4 linked regions of the Homo sapiens genome follow. The protein of the gene in region 1 purifies or fractionates together with the protein of each later gene. This does not show direct contact. Each region holds a gene or a part of one and is shown on either strand. Other genes may lie near its edges.

Evidence for each region.
Region 2: the proteins of KRT7 (region 1) and RNF135 purify together in Homo sapiens (affinity purification with mass spectrometry; one large-scale study listed by BioGRID and IntAct). This does not show direct contact.
Region 3: the proteins of KRT7 (region 1) and ACOT9 purify together in Homo sapiens (affinity purification with mass spectrometry; one large-scale study listed by BioGRID and IntAct). This does not show direct contact.
Region 4: the proteins of KRT7 (region 1) and SMTNL2 purify together in Homo sapiens (affinity purification with mass spectrometry; one large-scale study listed by BioGRID and IntAct). This does not show direct contact.

The regions. Positions count from the first base shown.
Region 1 is NC_000012.12:52,239,395-52,243,624, reverse strand, and holds part of KRT7 (keratin, type II cytoskeletal 7), read right to left. Parts: intron 2,154-4,230; coding exon 1,989-2,153; intron 614-1,988; coding exon 488-613; intron 1-487.
Region 2 is NC_000017.11:30,984,201-30,988,430, reverse strand, and holds part of RNF135 (E3 ubiquitin-protein ligase RNF135), read right to left. Parts: intron 3,815-4,230; coding exon 3,671-3,814; intron 488-3,670; coding exon 325-487; intron 1-324.
Region 3 is NC_000023.11:23,729,526-23,733,755, reverse strand, and holds part of ACOT9 (acyl-coenzyme A thioesterase 9, mitochondrial isoform a precursor), read left to right. Parts: intron 1-538; coding exon 539-584; intron 585-2,769; coding exon 2,770-2,940; intron 2,941-3,191; coding exon 3,192-3,229; intron 3,230-4,230. UniProt on the Homo sapiens protein: Mitochondrial acyl-CoA thioesterase. Catalyzes the hydrolysis of acyl-CoAs into free fatty acids and coenzyme A (CoA), regulating their respective intracellular levels. Regulates both mitochondrial lipid and amino acid metabolism.
Region 4 is NC_000017.11:4,583,027-4,587,704, reverse strand, and holds the start of SMTNL2 (smoothelin-like protein 2), read right to left. Parts: upstream 3,177-4,678; 5' UTR 3,100-3,176; coding exon 2,701-3,099; intron 1-2,700.

The sequences.
Region 1 (4,230 bases):
GCATGACCATTCTTGGCAAATGCAAGATGCAGGAAGCAGGTTAGCATGGCCAGAGCAGAGTGAGGGGAATCGTGGAAAGTGAGGTTGGAGTGGGTGGGAAAGGGCCATGTGAGTCATTATAAGGTCTTCTGCTGTCCTCTGTCCCTGCAATGAATGATGAGCTCCCAGGGACAGCGCCCTGCAGCCAGAACCAGGTGCAAGCAGAGTGCTCAGTATCAATGTGGAACCAGTGGTGGCTTTCTTCTGGCCAGCCAGCCTGAGTCTCCCTCCACAGGCTCTGTGCACATCCAGGACCTTTCTCCCATCAGCCCATGCCAGGACCTGGCCAAGAACATTCTGTGCTGGAGATCTCACAAGGGGGTCTGAGACAGTGGCACCAGCTTTGGCCGGGAGATGGGAACCTCCTGCTCCACATCCTGAGTTTGGCCTCAGCTGGCCACCCCTGCATGCCCCAAGTAGCAGGGGAAGCCAGGAGGACTTGTCCCACCTGGTTCTTGATGTTGTCGATCTCAGCCTGCAGCCTCTGGATGGCCCGGTTCATCTCTGAAATCTCATTCCGGGTATTCCGGAGGTCGTCCCCATGCTTCCCAGCCTGGGCCTGGAGGGTCTCAAACTGGAGGGGCCATACAGAGAGTTATGGCAGAGAGATGGGCAGTGAGTACAGGTAACTCATCCCTCTCCCCACCCAAGGCCCCTCCCAACTTATATTTTCAGGGAAGGACAGTCTGACTCCCATCAACCTTTGCCCGATGCCAGGAGACCAGACAGCAGTGTGAGGAAGGGATTCATTCTCCTCCAAGCCAGGCAGGGAGGACAGACAAGGCTCCGCAGTCCCATCCCCATGGACCCCAGGGCTCTTCCACTCCCACCATGCCCTTCTGCTGGAGAATCACTGAGAGTTTGAGATTCGCACCCATTCAACACCCAGAACACCCATTTCACAGGTGAGGAGAGTGAGTCTTGGAGAAGAGAAAGCACCACCCAGGGATCACACAGCCAATCAGTGATGGAACGAGGGCCTGAACCCAGGTCTTCTTGTTGGCATACTTGTGTTCTCACCCAGGCACCATGAATGACTCTCTATCTCTGCAGGGGCAGACCTCTCAATCCTTGCCTCGGGATCCCTTCTTCAGGAACACTGGTTCACCCCAGCACCCACTCCTGCTCCCTCAGCCCCTGCACCATCAACTGTCCTGCCACCATGAAGTAGATGTGATGATTAAGCCTCCCAGGTCTAGGGCCCTCACATTCAGGATTTAGTCCCTGCTCTTCCATCTACTAGCTGTATGCAGTTAGGCAAATTACTTAACCTCTCTGTGCCTCAATTTCCTCATCTTTAAATGGGGGTAATAGGCTGGGTGCGGTGTCTCACGCCTATAATCCCAGCACTTTGGGAGGCCGAGGCAGGTGGATCACCTGAGGTCAGGAGTTTGAGACCAGCCTGGCCAGCATGGTGAAACCTCGTCTCTACTCAAAATACAAAAAAAATTAGCCAGGCATGGTGGTGCACACCTGTAGTCCCAGCTACTCAGGAGGCTGAGGCACGAGGATCACATGAACCAGGGAGGCAAAGGTTGCAGTGAGCCAAGATCGCACCACTGCACTTCAGCCTGGGTGACAGAGCAAGACTCCATCTCAAAAAATAGAAATAAAATAAATTAAATTAAATAAAACAAAATGGGGGTAATAATGATGCCTATCTAATAGGGCTGTTCTGTGGATTACATGAGTCAATAATTACATGAGCCTAGTACTGTGTAAGTACTTGCCATATTTTAGCTATTATAATGATTAATCCATATCTATTTCCTCTGCCCTGTCCTCCCATCTTGGGATTTTCTCCAGGGCTGAGCACCACAGACTTAAACCACTGGTGCCTGCCAGAACAGTGGGACCCAGGCCCTGAAGGCTTGAGACAAGTTGAGGAGTAAGGGAAGCTGCCACCAAGGACCCTGGCAGGAGGAAATACGCCCCTGGTGGCCTCACACCTTGGTCTGGTACCAGGCTTCAGCCTCAGCCCGGCTGCATTTGGCCATCTCCTCATACTGCGCCTTGACCTCAGCGATGATGCCGTCCAGGTCCAGGGAGCGACTGTTGTCCATGGACAGCACCACAGATGTGTCGGAGATCTGGGACTGCAGCTCTGTCAACTCCTGTAGGGACCAGACGGGACATCAGGACTTAGGGCAGGATCCTATGCCCACGCCCACCCTGGGATTCCCCACTCACAAAGGAAAGAAAAGAGAGAACAGCTGGGAGTGGGCTGAGTCACCAGGCAGCAAGGGGGCCCAGACCCAGCACACATTAAGTTACTTCATTCTGCCCACCCTTGGCTCCCTGAGGGCCCATTAGCAGTGTCTCAAACGAGAATCTGGCAGGGTTAAAGGGGATAAGGAAAGGGACAGTGTGGTGCGCTGTGGTGACTTCTCACTGTGAGGTTCTGTAGGTGCACGAGCTCTATTGTGAGGGAGGCCATGGGGAATGGATGAAATTATCATATTCCACCATGCTACAGAATACTCTGCAGTCTGTACACCGATGATATGGCTCCAACTACCTGTGGGGAATATGCCCATGGTATACTGTTGCATTAAAAAAAGCATGATGCGTTCTCACTCATAGGTGGGAATTGAACAATGACATCACTTGGGCACAGGGCGGGGAACATCACACACCGGGGCCTGTCGGGGGCGTGGGGGGAGGGGGGAGTGATAGCATTAGGAGAAATACCTAATGTAAATGACAAGTTGATGGGTGCAGCACACCAACATGGCACATGTATGCCTATGTATCAAACCTGCACGTTGTGCACATGTACCCTAGAACTTAAAGTATAATAATAAAAATTAAAATAAAGCATGATGCTATTTTTATTGAAAATGTATATTTCTATATCTTTATGTATATGTAAGCACAGAAAAGTCTGGAAAGGTAGACACAAAGATGGTAGCATTGGGTATAAGTAATCCATTTTCTTTTTTTTTTCTTTTTTTTTGAGACAGAGTTTTGCTCTGTCACCCAAGCTGGAGTACAGTGGCACAATCTTGGCTCACTGCAACCTCCACCTTCCAGGTTCAACCAGTTCTCCTGTCTCAGCCTCCCGTGTAGCTGGGATTACAGGCACCCGCCACCATGCCTGGCTAATTTTTGTATTTTTAGTAGACACGGGGTTTCACCATGTTGGCCAGGCTGGTCTCCAACTCCTGACATCAGGTGATCCACTCACCTCGGCCTCCCAAACTACTGGGATTACAGGCATGAGCCACCACGCCTGGCCAAGTAATCCATTTTCAATTTACGATTTACTTAATTTTTTGGTTGTTTTGCAATGAGTATGTATTACTTTCACCATGAAAACAACTTTATATATATACACACAGGTGTGTTTACACATAAATAAACTAAACTTTCACCATGAAAAGAAAACTTTATATATATGTGTGTGTGTGTGTGTGTGTGTGTACACATGTGTGTTTACACATAAATAAACCATGTGATAGACCCAGGAAGACCTGAGATTAGAAGTGCCTGAAGCAAGCCTCAAAGAAACTTCCCCTGAAATTAATGAATCTGTGGACATTTGCTCTGAGGGGCTGGTGGAGACTGGACGTTCAGGCAAAGACTAGGCTGAAGAACTGGTTTGTAATTAACCTCACAAGCTAATTATGCCCAGCCTAGCCTCTGCCAGGTGACTGGCCACCCTACCTTCTGCCTAAGGCCAGAGACTCACACTGATGAGAGTGGAGAGATTTTTAAATCCCCTTGAAGAAAAAGAGCTGGAAACCCCGGAGGACAAGGGTGAGAGGGAGAGAATAAGAAGGGAAGGGAGGACATTAGAGTGGTGAGTTGGCAGGCAGCTACCCACCCAGCCCCTCTGGGAGTAAATGCTCAGGCAATCCAGTCTCTCCTGACTTGGGCTCCCCTGCTGGCCCTACCTAGCCCACCTTTGAACCCTGTCACAACCTGGAGTCCCCTGACCTCCTCCTGGTTCCTTCCAGTCCCACCCAATCCCCCTTCCTTAGAAATGCTGCGATCATCCCATGTCTCTCCAAGGTCAATCCTGATTGACTCACCCCCACCTCCTCCCGAATCCTTAGCCTGTCCTGAATTCCTGAGTCCAGAAGGGATAAAGGGCAGGATAAATCCTCGCAACCCCTGATGAAGGAAATAATGTATATAATGGTCCATTTCCAAGACAAAGTGCTTTAAATTGGCTTAGGTCAGCAAACT
Region 2 (4,230 bases), on another chromosome or scaffold:
AAAAAAAAAAAAAATTAAAAGTGGCCTATTTCAGAATCTCTGCAGTAAGATAACACACTTGATCAGTAAGGACCTGTGTGCATGGATCTTCAAAAATGAGTTTCTATCTATTAAGGACTTGTGATACATCACACCTTCAGTCATTGCCAAAAACATATTCAGCCACAAAATCACTTCAGCCCACCCCTACCTGATTCACGACACCACAGTGGTAATACAGCTGGACTCTGGGATCCTATCCCCAGAGAACAAAGCCATAGAGCACTCTGCTACTCCCCCCAACTTCCATATTTAATCCTCCTCCAATAAATAAGATCAGCTCACCCTGCATTTGTGCTTCAGGAGCCTCTTTCCAGGTGACGCTTTCTTGTAATTTTTCCTGAATTTCTTCTAGGTCATGGAGAATATCTCTGATTTTCCCTGCAGCTGTGTCGGAAGTCACCAGCTTTGGAGAAGCCATGGAAAGATCCACCCCAGAAGAAAAAGCCTATTGATAAACCATTTAAAACTGAATAAATGGAAGTCCCCTATGCAGTCTATCAACTATTATATTCAAGTTTTTCTATTCATCTATAATTTTCTATTTAATTCCCAGCAAGTTTTTAAAAACAAAATTAGGCCCTCAAAAAATATGCCTTGAAAAAAATCTGGAATAATTTGCTGTACATAGTACAGCAAAAATATCAAAGAGTGGTTATTTCTGGGTGATGGAGTTATGGAGCACTTTAATTTGCTTTATTTAATGCTATGTGCTTTCTAATATTTTGCACAATAAACATGGATTTCTTAGGTAATACCAAAAAAGTTTAACATTTCTAGGCGCATCTTATAGGGGCTTTATAAAATAAATACTACAGATAGTTACTGAGATAAACCATGGAGGTCAGAATAACCTTTTCGGCTAGGTGTGGTGGCTCACACCTGTAATCCCAGCACTTTGGAAGGCTGAGGAGGGTAGAACACCTGAAGTCAGGAATCCGAGACCAGCCTGGCCAACATGGTGAAACCCTGTCTGTACTAAAAATACAAAAATTAGCCAGGCATGATGGCAAGTGCCTGTAATCCCAACTACATGGGAGGCTGAGGCAGGACAATCACTTGAACCCGGGAGGTAGAGGTTGTACTGAGCTGAGAAGATCATGCCACTGCACTACAACCTGGGCGACAGAGCAAGACTCCATTTCACAAAAAAAAAAAAAGGAACCTTTTCCCACCTCTATCATTATATCATTTCACTTCGCAAGAGCTCCCTCTCAAATTGCCTGCATCCAGGTCCTGCTTTCTAGGGCCTTCAACACATGCTCCCTGATTTTCTTTAGCCTCAGGTCCTGTTCTTCCCCAATACAGCCCTTTATCTGCTCACCAACTTCAACCCCTTTCCTTCCCACCTTTGCATAATCCACTCCCCATTCTTTCCACCAATCAAAATACGGTAGTATTACACTTATTGAGTGTTTTCTACATGCTAGATATTGCCTTTCTCTCATTTGCATAACAACCTCACAAAGTAGGTTTATCAACCTGTAAAAAATCTCCGTTTTACAAAAGAAGATGAAATTCATGAAGGTTAACTAAATTGCCACAGTTAATTATAACATCCCACATTTTAACATTGCTCAAGCACTTTCTTATACCTCTTTTAATCCTCACAATAAACCAATGATGTGGCAGGCCCTGTATCATTATTTCTATATTACAGATAGGAACCTGAGACGCAGATAGATGAAATGACTTGCCCAAGGTCATAATACTAGTGAGTGACAATGTCAATTCTGAAAGTCAGACTCTCAGCGTTTCTATCCCAACACATCGCATCCCTAAAGATGGATTTATCCATACATTCAGTGGGTATTTGTTGAACCCCTACTGTAAGTGGGTACTTGGGTACTGTGCTAGCGCCTGGGGACACAATGGTGGACAAAAGAACAAAAGCATCAGCCAGGCAATGTGGCGCACGCCTGTAATCCCAGCACTTTGGGAGGCCGAGGCAGGTGGATCACAAGGTCAGGAGTTTGAGGCCAGACTGGCCAGTATGGTGAAACCCCGTCTCTACTAAAAATACAAAAATTAGCCAGGAGTGGTGGCGGACACCTGTAGTCCCAGCTACTCGGCAGGCTGAGGCAGGAGAATCACTTGAACCTAGGAGGCGGAGGTTGCAATGAGCTGAGATCACGCCACTGCACTCCAGCAAGACTCTGTCTCAAAAAAAAAAAAAGCATCAAAAGTCCCTATCCTCCTGAAGTTGAGAGTCCAGTGAAGGAAAAGGGAGGGGGGCAGACATTAATATAGAGTATGGCACAAGACATTACAAAGGTGCAATGGTGATAACCACTACAAATGAAAGGTACATGGAGTCCTCAGAGCCTCTAATGGGGAGATTTGATTTGTTCAAGGAAATCATTGAAGGCTTCTTTCTGAAGAAATGACGTTCTAGCTAGGATCTGAAGGATGAGCAAGTATTACCTAAGTGATGGAGGGAAAGGAGAGCATTCCATGAAGGGTGCCCTGTAGTGGGAAGACGTGAGACACACTAGAGCGACTGTGCGGCCAGTGTAGCTAGAGCGCACAGAGCCAGGCAGCATGAGCAGAGATGAGATTTGAGAGGCAGACAGAGATGGGATCCTACAGGGCTTTGCTGGTCCTGTGAGGATTTGGGTCTTACTCCTGAGCAAACTGATGTAATTTGAATGTTTTAAGCAGATGAGTTACATTTTCAGATTGATGTTTGTGGTAGTCACTGTGATGACCATGAGGAAAACAGACTAGAAGAGGGAGAGTGGAGCATTTGGAAGACTATGACAGCAATCCAGACATGAAATTATCAGAGGCTTGGATTAGAGCAAGTCTCAAAGGAGCTCAAGAATAAGTAAATAGATTTGAGAGGTAATTAGGCAGGTCTTAAAGCTACAATATGCTGCATATTAGGGTAAGGGAGAAGAAGGTAACATGATTTCCAGGTCTCTGGCTTCTGTACTTGGAAAGATAATGGGGCAAGCATTGAGATGAGAAATCCCAGAAGAGGAGCAGTTTAGGACGCATTAAGTGTGATGCTTTGAGATACCCAAGAAGAAAAGATGAGAAGGAAGACATAGCAGCCTAGTGCTCAGAGAAGGCTCCAGCCTGGAGCTATTATTTGTGCATAGAGGTGGTCATTAAAGCCATGGATGCAGGGAAGACTACCTGCAGGGGAAACAAAGGGACCTACAACTCAGCCTTGAGGAACTCCAGCATTTAATTCCTAAGCAGAGGAGAGAGAGCCTGTAAACAGACTGAGAAGGATCAGCCAGAGAGAGGTGGGGGAAAGCCAAAAGATTCCTGTCCCAAAAGCTAAGAATGAAGGTGTGGTCCACAGTGTCAAAGGCTGCTGAAAGGTCAATGAAGACAGGCACCAGAACGCTTATAGAGACAGGCACCAGAACGTTATACACAGAGGTCACTGGTGATCTTAGAGACAGCTTGTTAGGTGGAGTGATCCTAGCCCATCTGAAGCTTCCCAACCTTACCTCAAGCATTCCAAATGTCCAATCATCCATGTCTGGTAGTAAAGAGAACAATAAAAGATTGAGACTTATTGTATCCTTCAGGTTCAAATATGTTCATGTTGTTCCAGTTGAAAGCAATCCCTAGCCCTATTCCCTTCCACATCCTTTCCTCTCCCAGTGGAGCCTACCTTGCCCAGGATGCTCAGTTCGTTGTCTGGTCCAGATTCTGATAGGGGCCTCTGATTCTGCAGGCTTCTGACAATGTCTACAAGATGTTCCACCAGCTCTGTCAGCTCCTGAGCAACTTCTGTGATGCTCTTCTCTACTGCCACCTTCAAAATAGCAAAGTTCAGGTCCTGGGTTCTATAAAACTGGACCCAGGAACCACCACTAGACAGAGGGAATCATAAATACTGTGGTAATGGCATAAAAACAGACATACAGACCGATGGAATACAATAGAGTACCCAGAAATAAACTCTCACATATATAGTTAAATGATTTTTGACGAAGGTGCCAAGACCATTCAATGGAGAAAGGACAGTTTTTTCAACAAATTGTACTGTGAAAACTGGATATCTATATGCAAAAGAATATGGCTGGACCCTTACCTAACATCATATACAAAAACTAACTCAAAATGGATCAAAGACCTAAATGTAAGACCTAAAATAATACAGCTGTTAGAAGAAAACATAGGGCAAAATTTATGACATTGGATTTGGCAATGATTTATTGTATATGTCAC
Region 3 (4,230 bases), on another chromosome or scaffold:
CTACAAAAATTAGCCGGGTGTGGTGGCACAGCGCCTGTAATCCCAGCTACTTGGGAGACTGAGGCAGGAGAATCGCCTGAACCCGGGAGGTGGAGGATGCAGTGAGCCGAGATTGTGCCACCGAACTCTAGCCTGGGTGACAGAGTGAGACCATCTCAAAAAAAACAACAAAAAAGAAGATAGGTGGGAATCCTGTTCATATCTCCATCATAATGGCTCTTACTGGCTAACACTGATACAGCCCCATTAAGTGAATAATTGAAGTTATCCTTTTTTGTTTGTTTATATAAACCCTAGTGATTGGCACAAAGGTATTCATTTGTGCACCTTTAAAGAGACAGTATAGTTCTTTCAGGTTTTTAGGGAGCAGAGGCTTGATCCTGTCCCTGAGCTGTTTGTTGTGGCATTAAATGGAAATCTATGGATCTTTAAATCTTTTGAGTGCATGAATTGCTTTTTGTAGTTCTTGAGCTCATTGCCATAATCCGTTTCTCATATTTCTTTGTTTCATGGAATGACCTCTTTATTTTTGTTTCAGTTCGAGATAAGTTGCGGGAGATAGTAGGAGCATCCACAAACTGGAGGTATGCATCTTTGTTTTCATTCATTCTTTTCATCCCCAAGGTATTATACTACACTGTATTTAGGCTCAGTTGATGGTCTCACAGTGGGGATGGGGAGCCCTATGTTCAGAGATAGGTTGAGAAGTATTTTGCTTGGGGGAGAAGGTCAACATTTCAACATACTCATCAGATGACACCTCATTGTCATGAAAGAAGATGATTTACGTATATTCTGCATTTTCAAAGTGCATTTAGGTGTATATTACTTCACTGATTCTCATAACAAAACTTGTGACGTGCTTACGACATATGTTCCTGTTCCTTTTTTTACACATGAAACTGAAACTCAGAGATTGAATGATTAAATGTCAGGGTTTGGGACTTGAACCCAAGTCGCTAAGTTTCTCTGTTTCATGCAACTTGACTCCTTTATTGCTTCTTGTCAGTTCAAAATTAGTCAGGCCTCCCATATTGTCTTTCTCTTTCTCGCAGTATTTCCTTGTTGTAAAGTAGGATCATATCCCTCTTGGTGTACATAATTTTGAGGCTAAAATGAGATAGAAAAAACACGAGTGATCACTAGATATATAATAATCTATTGTTGGTATAGAAATTATCTAATGACTTATTTTTAAATTCTTTATATGAAAAATTTCACTTTACTAAAAGGTAGAAAGAATGAATACCTGTGTACCCACCACCTGGATTCCATACTTATTAATATTTTGCCAAATTTTCCAATATACACATATTGCCTGAACCATTTCTAAGTAAATTATAGACACCATGACACTTCAGCGTGCATCTTCAGTAAACATTTTATAAAACCAGCCTTCGCTTATCTCCAACAAATAAGACATTCTCTCATGTAATCAAATTGACAGCAATTCCTTGCTAGTATATTACTCATCCATAGTCACATTTCCTCAACTGTTACCATTTTGTGTAATAGATTACTCCTTTTAACAAAAATGTTTTTATAGCTGTTTAAAAAACATCAAGATCCAATAAAGGATTGCATGTTGCATCTGGTGGTTATGACTCTTTAGTCTTCCCTAATCTAGAGTAATGGACAGTCGTCCTTCCCCTATTCTTCCCCCATGAGCTTGACTTTAAGGAGGCCAAGCCATTTGTCTTGAGAATGTTCCACATTCTGGATTTACTGGTGTCATTTAACTCATTCCTCTATCTCCTGTAGTTTTTGTAGGGTAAACATTTCTGGAAATAATACTTTATAAGTTAAGCTTAGAAAGACATCTTAGCTAATGTTCTTATCAACATTGTCGTTCCGTATCCCCTTGTCTTTCTTTTCTCTTTCACCTTAATCTTCTCTTCTTTTTCTTCCCTTTCTGTCTCCTTTTCATGTTATGTTCTTCTTTACCTTTTGTTCTGCCTTCCATACTTCCTTTGGATATAGTCCATTTTCCCTCCTCTGTCTCTCTTTCCTGAAATTGAAGGCAGAGAGAGAGAGAGAACTGGGGCTCAAAGAATCCGAGAACTGTCAGGTGAGAAATGGGAATATAAAGTAGAGTGGCCAAGCCATTCTTTAGCATATATATTTATATGTATATATATATACTATTTTGTCCATCTCTCTAAATTTTTAATTTAATTTCAAATATTCTGGTCTTTGAGTAAACTTTTTGATAAGGGTGAATATATGGCTCATTTGGGTATATCTATATCAGTTTTAAGTTTTCTTTTTTTTTTTTTTTTTTGAGACAGTCTTGCTCTGTTGCCCAGGCTGGAGTGCAGTGGTGTGATCTTGGCTCATTGCAACCTCCGCCTCCCACGTTCAAGCAATTCTCCTGCCTCAGCCTACCAAGTAGCTGGGATTACAGGTGCCCACCACCACACCTGGCTAATTTTTTGTATTTTTAGTAGAGACGGAGTTTTGCCATGTTGGCCAGGCTGGTCTTGAACCCCTGACCTCGTGTGATCCACCCGCCTTGGCCTCCCAAAATGCTGGGATTACAGGCGTGAGACACTGCACCTGGCCTTAAGAATGTTTTTAAGCTTGAGAAATGATACCGGAAATGATCAATTTCACCAAGTGGCAGGTGGGAAGGGAGGGAAGGAAGAGAAGGTGAAAGTAGGCCCAGACCTTCTTTTTCCTCCTTTGATGGTATCTTACTGGCCTGTGTACCACTGGAATTGTGGGCTAGAACTGCTCTTGTTTTATGAATCCTGCATCCTTTCTTCTCAGAGACCATGTGAAGGCAATGGAAGAAAGGAAATTACTTCATAGTTTCTTGGCTAAATCACAGGATGGACTGCCTCCTAGGAGAATGAAGGACAGTTATATTGAAGTTCTCTTGCCTTTGGGCAGTGAGCCTGAATTACGAGAGAAATATTTGACTGTTCAAAACACCGTAAGGTAACACAGTGCTATTTTTATGTATTTGTTTTTATTTCCTTGTTTTATAACAATTTTGAAATATAATTCACACACCATACAATTCGCCTGTTTAAAGTGTACAGTTCCATGGTTTTGATATATTTAGAGAGTTGTGCATCCATCACCACAGTCAATTTTAGAACATTTTCATCACCCTGAAGTGTGTTATTTATTTTTAAAGGGAGACCAACATGATTTGCATTTAATTCACTGTTTGCTTTATTTCACAGATTTGGCAGGATTCTTGAGGATCTTGACAGCTTGGGAGGTACTGGTATTATTTTAGTCTTTCTAATAGATACCTACAGATATACATTGAATTCTGTGACTGGAAAGGGCTCTTTTATTCTTTAACCTGCACAGATGATGATATTCTAAAGTGCACAAAAAAAGAAGGACATCGGCCGGGCGTGGTGGCTCATGCCTGTAATCCCAGCACTTTGGGAGGCTGAGGCGGGCGGATCACTTGAGGTTGGGAGTTTGAGACCAGCCTGACCAACATGGAGAAACCCCGTCTCTACTAAAAATACAAAATTAGCCAGTTGTGTTGGTGGGCGCCGTAATCCCAGCTACTTGGGAGGCTGAGGCAAGAGAATCACTTGAACCTGGGAGGCAGAGGTTGCGGTGAGCTGAGATCGTGCCATTGCACTACAGCCTGGGTAACAAGAGTGAAACTCCATCTCCAAAAAAAAAAAAAAAAAATGGCATCTACTACTTCTGAATTGTCATAATTTTTTTCTTATAAATGTAGATTCCTATTTAATGGAGGTATAGTCTGAATAATCTTTCTTACTAGTAACTTTAAAAAAAGAAAGTCTTAAACTTACAGAAAAGTTGCAAATACAGTATAAAGAATTTTTCTGTGGCCAGGCGCGGTGGCTCACGCCTATAATCCCAGCACTTTGGGAGGCTGAGGCAGGCAGATCACAAGGTCAGGAGATCGAGACCATCCTGGCTAACATGGTGAAACCCCATCTCTACTAAAAATACAAAAAATTAGCCAGGCGTGGTGGCATACGCCTGTAGTCCCAGCTATTCAGGAGGCTGAGGCAGGAGAATCACTTGAACCTGGGAGGTGGAGGTTGCATTGAGCCGAGATCGCGCCACTGCACTCCAGCCTGGGCGACAGAGTGAGACTCCGTCTCAAAAATAAAAAAGAAAAAAATTTTTTGTCCCTGAATTATGTGAGAATAAGTGGCTGACATGATGCCACATCACCCCCAAATATTTGAATATGTCTTTCCTACAAACAAGGACATTCTTCTACAT
Region 4 (4,678 bases), on another chromosome or scaffold:
ATTGCTTGTTACAGAGGGGTAGTGTGACACCAACCTCTACAATGCCAGGTAGTACAGCCATCCCTGGCTCATGTGGATGGGATGAGATTGTCCCACCCAGACCCCCACTACACAGACACAAAGTCTGAGAGGTCAGACACCCAGCAGCCTGGTGTGGGGCTGTGACTCTATGTCCATGGTCCACACTCCAGTCTCACCCTGAGCCCCGGCTCCTTGAGTGTGACCAAGCTCTTGATCACATCGTGCTGGTCACAGGACACGAGCCAGCACATGGGGATGGCTCCACACAGTCCCTCCTCTCAATGCTGGACACTGGTCTGGAGGCTGTGACAATGCTCCTGAGACGGAGGACAGCAAGAGAGATGGGGATTGGTGCTTCGGGGGTCAGCCCAGCGGCAGCTGCCTCAGGCCCCGGGAGCCAGGGCTCAAGGGGTGCAGAGCCTCTAACCCAACTGGGGACCATAGCCATGTTCCACCCACAGTGCTCAGCTACCCTTGCTGCTCATGCCCCTGGGTGCCTGGGTCTCCATCTTCACTCCCCAACAGGCCGACGCATCTTCACTGACCCCAGCCTCTTCTTCCAGGAGGGCTCCTTCTCTGGTTTGCTGAGAGTGCACTCAGGTCCTCCTCACTCCCTGGCAGTTCCCCGGTCTGGTTTTTAATTCCTTCAGACTCTTTGCTTCTGCCCAGAGAGCTCCCTAATCTCCAGGCTTGCTCACTGTGTGGAGCACCAGATCCATGAATCCACCTGCTCTGGGACAGCTTCACCTGGAGTTCCCATAGTCCCCTCATGTTCAGCACGACCCGGGTGGAACCCAGCATCTCACCCCAGATCTGTGACCCAGCAGTCCCCCAAGTCAGAGCTCCCCTCTGAGACTACCCCATCTGCTCATTCCCCCTCTGAAACCCTGTCCAAGGCAGCCCCTCTACACACCAAGGCCCACGGCCCAGCTCAGACCTTTCCTTTCTCCTTGGACCATCACAATCAAGTTACCCACCTCCAGCCACCCTCCACCTTCCATCCACCCCGAAGAGGGCTTGCCAGACACAAAGAAGACCCTCATCCTGAGCTTCATCCACCAACTCCTAACCTAGTGGACTAGCTTGGTGCCAGTGAACAATGGCTAATCTCCATTGACAAAAATCACGACTGGAGAGAATTCCCTCTCTCTCTCTCTCTCTCTCTCTCTCTTTGTGTGTACACACACATCTACATGTATATGTGAACCTGACATTTTTTTTTTTAATTTGGACAGCTGCTGCTATGAGCAGACAAATAGCAAATGCATGTTCAAATAAAACCTCAGAAACAACCGATGACACAGTTGATGAGGCACGTGTGAGCTCACAGTGGTGATTTTAGACCATGGTCACGTAGAGTGTCATGTTCATAAGACAGACTTAAGTGTATCCACATTTCCAGACATTTCACACGGAGCACTGGGACACTCCCGGGTTCTGCTACCATGACATGTTTAAGAACTTCTTACAGGCCGGGCAAAGCCCAACTCCTCTGCCCAGCACACTAGGGGCATTCGCCACTGCCCACTCCACTCGCATACCTCGAGGCTGCACTCACCAGTGAGTACTTTCAGCCTTTCTGAGGCTTCCTGCACAGCCCCCACCCCACCCTCATCTGCACCAGTAGCAGCAAGCCCCAGGCCCCCAGCACAAAGCCTTGCTGAGATACCCACTGAGAAGGGGCTAACTACTGTGTTTGGAGCAAAACATCTCTGGCTGCCCAAACTTGGTCTGGGGCCATCTCCCACCCTGGATGGGACCTCCAGGGGGAAGGCCCAATCTGATACCCTCCTCCAGGCCCCCTAGGGTCCAGCCCAGCCCACAGCGGGAAATCTGAGAGCCCCAGGGATTGCACCAAGGAGGGAGCAGGTGCAGGCTACACAGCCCCAGATCCTGGGAACCCAACCCGAGAGCACATGCCTGATCAGGATGGAAAATCCCACCCAAGGGCCACTGCACACACCATGGACACATTCTAACTGCTCTGGGTGGCCCATGCGCAAGGTAGTGACTGGTCCACGTCGGCCTCCGCCCTATCCCCACGTGGTGTGGGCCTCTGGCTAGTCACTGACCCGAGGAATCTAGACACGGCTCAAGGCGGGTTTCCACCTCTCTCCCTTCACGGTAAGGGATTTACCCCCTGCGATGGAGAGTTCCCAAAAGCCGCTGCTGATCGCGTCCCCCTCGACCCCCCTCCCCACCCATCCAGGGGCCTGAGTTCTCAATCTGAGTTAATCAATAACCAGAGCCGTCAGGCCTCAGTGAAGCGGCAACGCAGGGGAGCGTGAATGGAGGGTGGGGGTCAGGCAGGGGTGTCGACCATTCCAACATGCCCCGCGTGGCTCCAGGCAGTGCTGAACAGTCAGGGGCCGGACTTCGGCGCCCAAGCCGTTGATGTCATGGGACAGAGGAGAGAGGGAGACAGGACTCTGAGCAAACAGAGCCTGGCTCTAAAACAGGGCGGAGGACCAAGACAGGTGCAGCTGGCAGGCTCAGCGGTCCTCCCCCCGCCCTCTCCAACTCCGGAGGGGCGGCAGGACCCCCATCACCTAGTCCGAGCGGCCGGTGAAGGCCCCAACCCCGCAGACGCGAGCAGAGGCAGGCAGTCGGGGCGAAGGGGCGGCACCCGGTTCGGAGCCCCACTCCCTGGCGCCAGCGCACGCGCTCCCCCGGGCTCACCTGGCCGCGGCCGGACAGCGAGAAGGTGGCGTGGCTGGCGAAGCGTGCGCTGCCCAGGCGGGGCGCGCGGTCGGGAACCCCGGGCGCGGGCGGGGGGCTGGGCGTGCCGGGAGTGCCGGGCACCGGGGACATCCCGCTGGCCAAGCCCAGCGCCTCCACCTGGCGCGTCAGGCGCTCGAGCTGCGCCTGCAGCCGCTGGTTGTCCCGCTGCAGGTCGGCCACCGTGCGCGCCAGGGGGCCGGCCAGGCGCATCGCCTCTGCCACTCGCCGCTCCACGCCGCGCTGCAGCCCCCGCATGTCCTCGTGCAGCGCGCGCACCGCACCCTCCAGCGCCGCCTCGTAGCGGCCCAGCGCCTCGCGCACAGTGCGCGCCTCCTGGGCGTCGGGGGCCGGCTCCATGGCCCAGCAGAGCGCGCGGGTCGAGAGCGGGCCAGACGGGGGAGAAGATCCGAGCTCCGCAGCTCCGGGCCGCGACTGGCCGTCCGTGGCTGGCTTCGCTCGAGGGGCTGCCGGGGAGGCGGGCGCGGGGCGGGGCCTCGGGGGCGGAGCCGGGGACGACTCCGGGACACCCCCCTGCCCTGGAGCCCAGCGGGACGGTGCGGAGGGAGAGCTCGCCCAGCCTCTCCCCTCCCCGGCTCTTAACTGAGCCCTGCGACCCCGGAGGAGCGGCGTGCGGCCTGCGGGAGGGGCGGCGGGCCCACCCGAAGAAGGCCCTGGCCCCCCTGGACCGTAGAGAGCACACCCGGGCTGACGCGTTCGCTCGGGACTCTCACCCGCAAGGCCCAGGTTCCTCCGGGGGCGGAGACTCCCGGGCTAATGGGGACACCTACAGCTCCCACAGCTGCCGCCCCACTCCGCGGGGCCCTCCCTATGCAGCGGCCACGGCTCTCGCAGGCACACGCTCACCTGTGGGACCTTCGCCTGGAATTTCTTGTATCTGTTCTAAGACCTCAGGGAGGAGACAGGTGGTGAGGTCCCCTCCCTGACTCTGCGACTACGCGCTGTCCCCTCCCAGTCCTACTCTGTATAGCAAGATCTTCGTGCCCTTCCCACTAGTGGTCGGTAGAGGCTCCCGACCCACCAAGGGGCCTCCGTTAGGAGATCCTGGAGAGGCTAAGGGCAGACAGAGAAAGAAGGGTGTGCTGGAGCTGCATCTCCAAATCCTGGAATGGGCGGCTTTGCGACTAATCGCCCCCTCCCGCAATGAGAGTCTCAGTCACTGGCCTCTACCCGTAGGCCAGGGGTCTTACCCCTATTCCTTCTCAATGCTCTTTATGGCTGAACCCAGATAGTTCCCCCTTCCAAATGCACACCCCAAACCATCACCAGAAAAGGGAAGAAGGGAAACAGGTGTTGCTTTAGGACGATGGGATGATGGGCAAAGCTAACTCTAAGTTTTCGCTATATCATAAAGCTGATTTAAAATAAAAATGAGAACATATCCTCCTTTGTGCAAAAAACCTTTCCTAATTGGCCTTCTTTTTCCCAAGCCTGGCCTGCCTGAAAGAGGCCCAGAGGCTGGGCATGCATAGCCAGCTGACCTGCAGGAAGGAGAAGTCTGAAAGGCTTGTTCATATCATGTTCTGCTCCCAAGGTTGTTTGGAGCCCACAAACCCTCCTGGACTGGCCATCATTGCCCCAAAGGAACTGGAGCAGCCTGACAGATGCTAAATGCTGGTTCTCTCCCCCGCCCCCAGCCCCAAGGGGACAGGAAGGAACGCTGGGTTACCTAATCCAAGGAGCCTTCCAGCAATTATTTCATGAAAAAGGCAAATGCCAAAAGGTGTGCATGCTGCATATATGTGTGAGCATGTGTGTGCATTCCAGGTAGCCATCTGGACAGGGTGAGCCAAACTGCTCCCTGAATGCTTTCTCCAGGTGGAATCTTTAGTAGCAGCCTCCAGAGACGCTGCTGCTGCTCTTGCCGCAGACAGCACTCAAAGCCCCTCCAGGTCTCAGCACAAGAACCTGGAGTTCA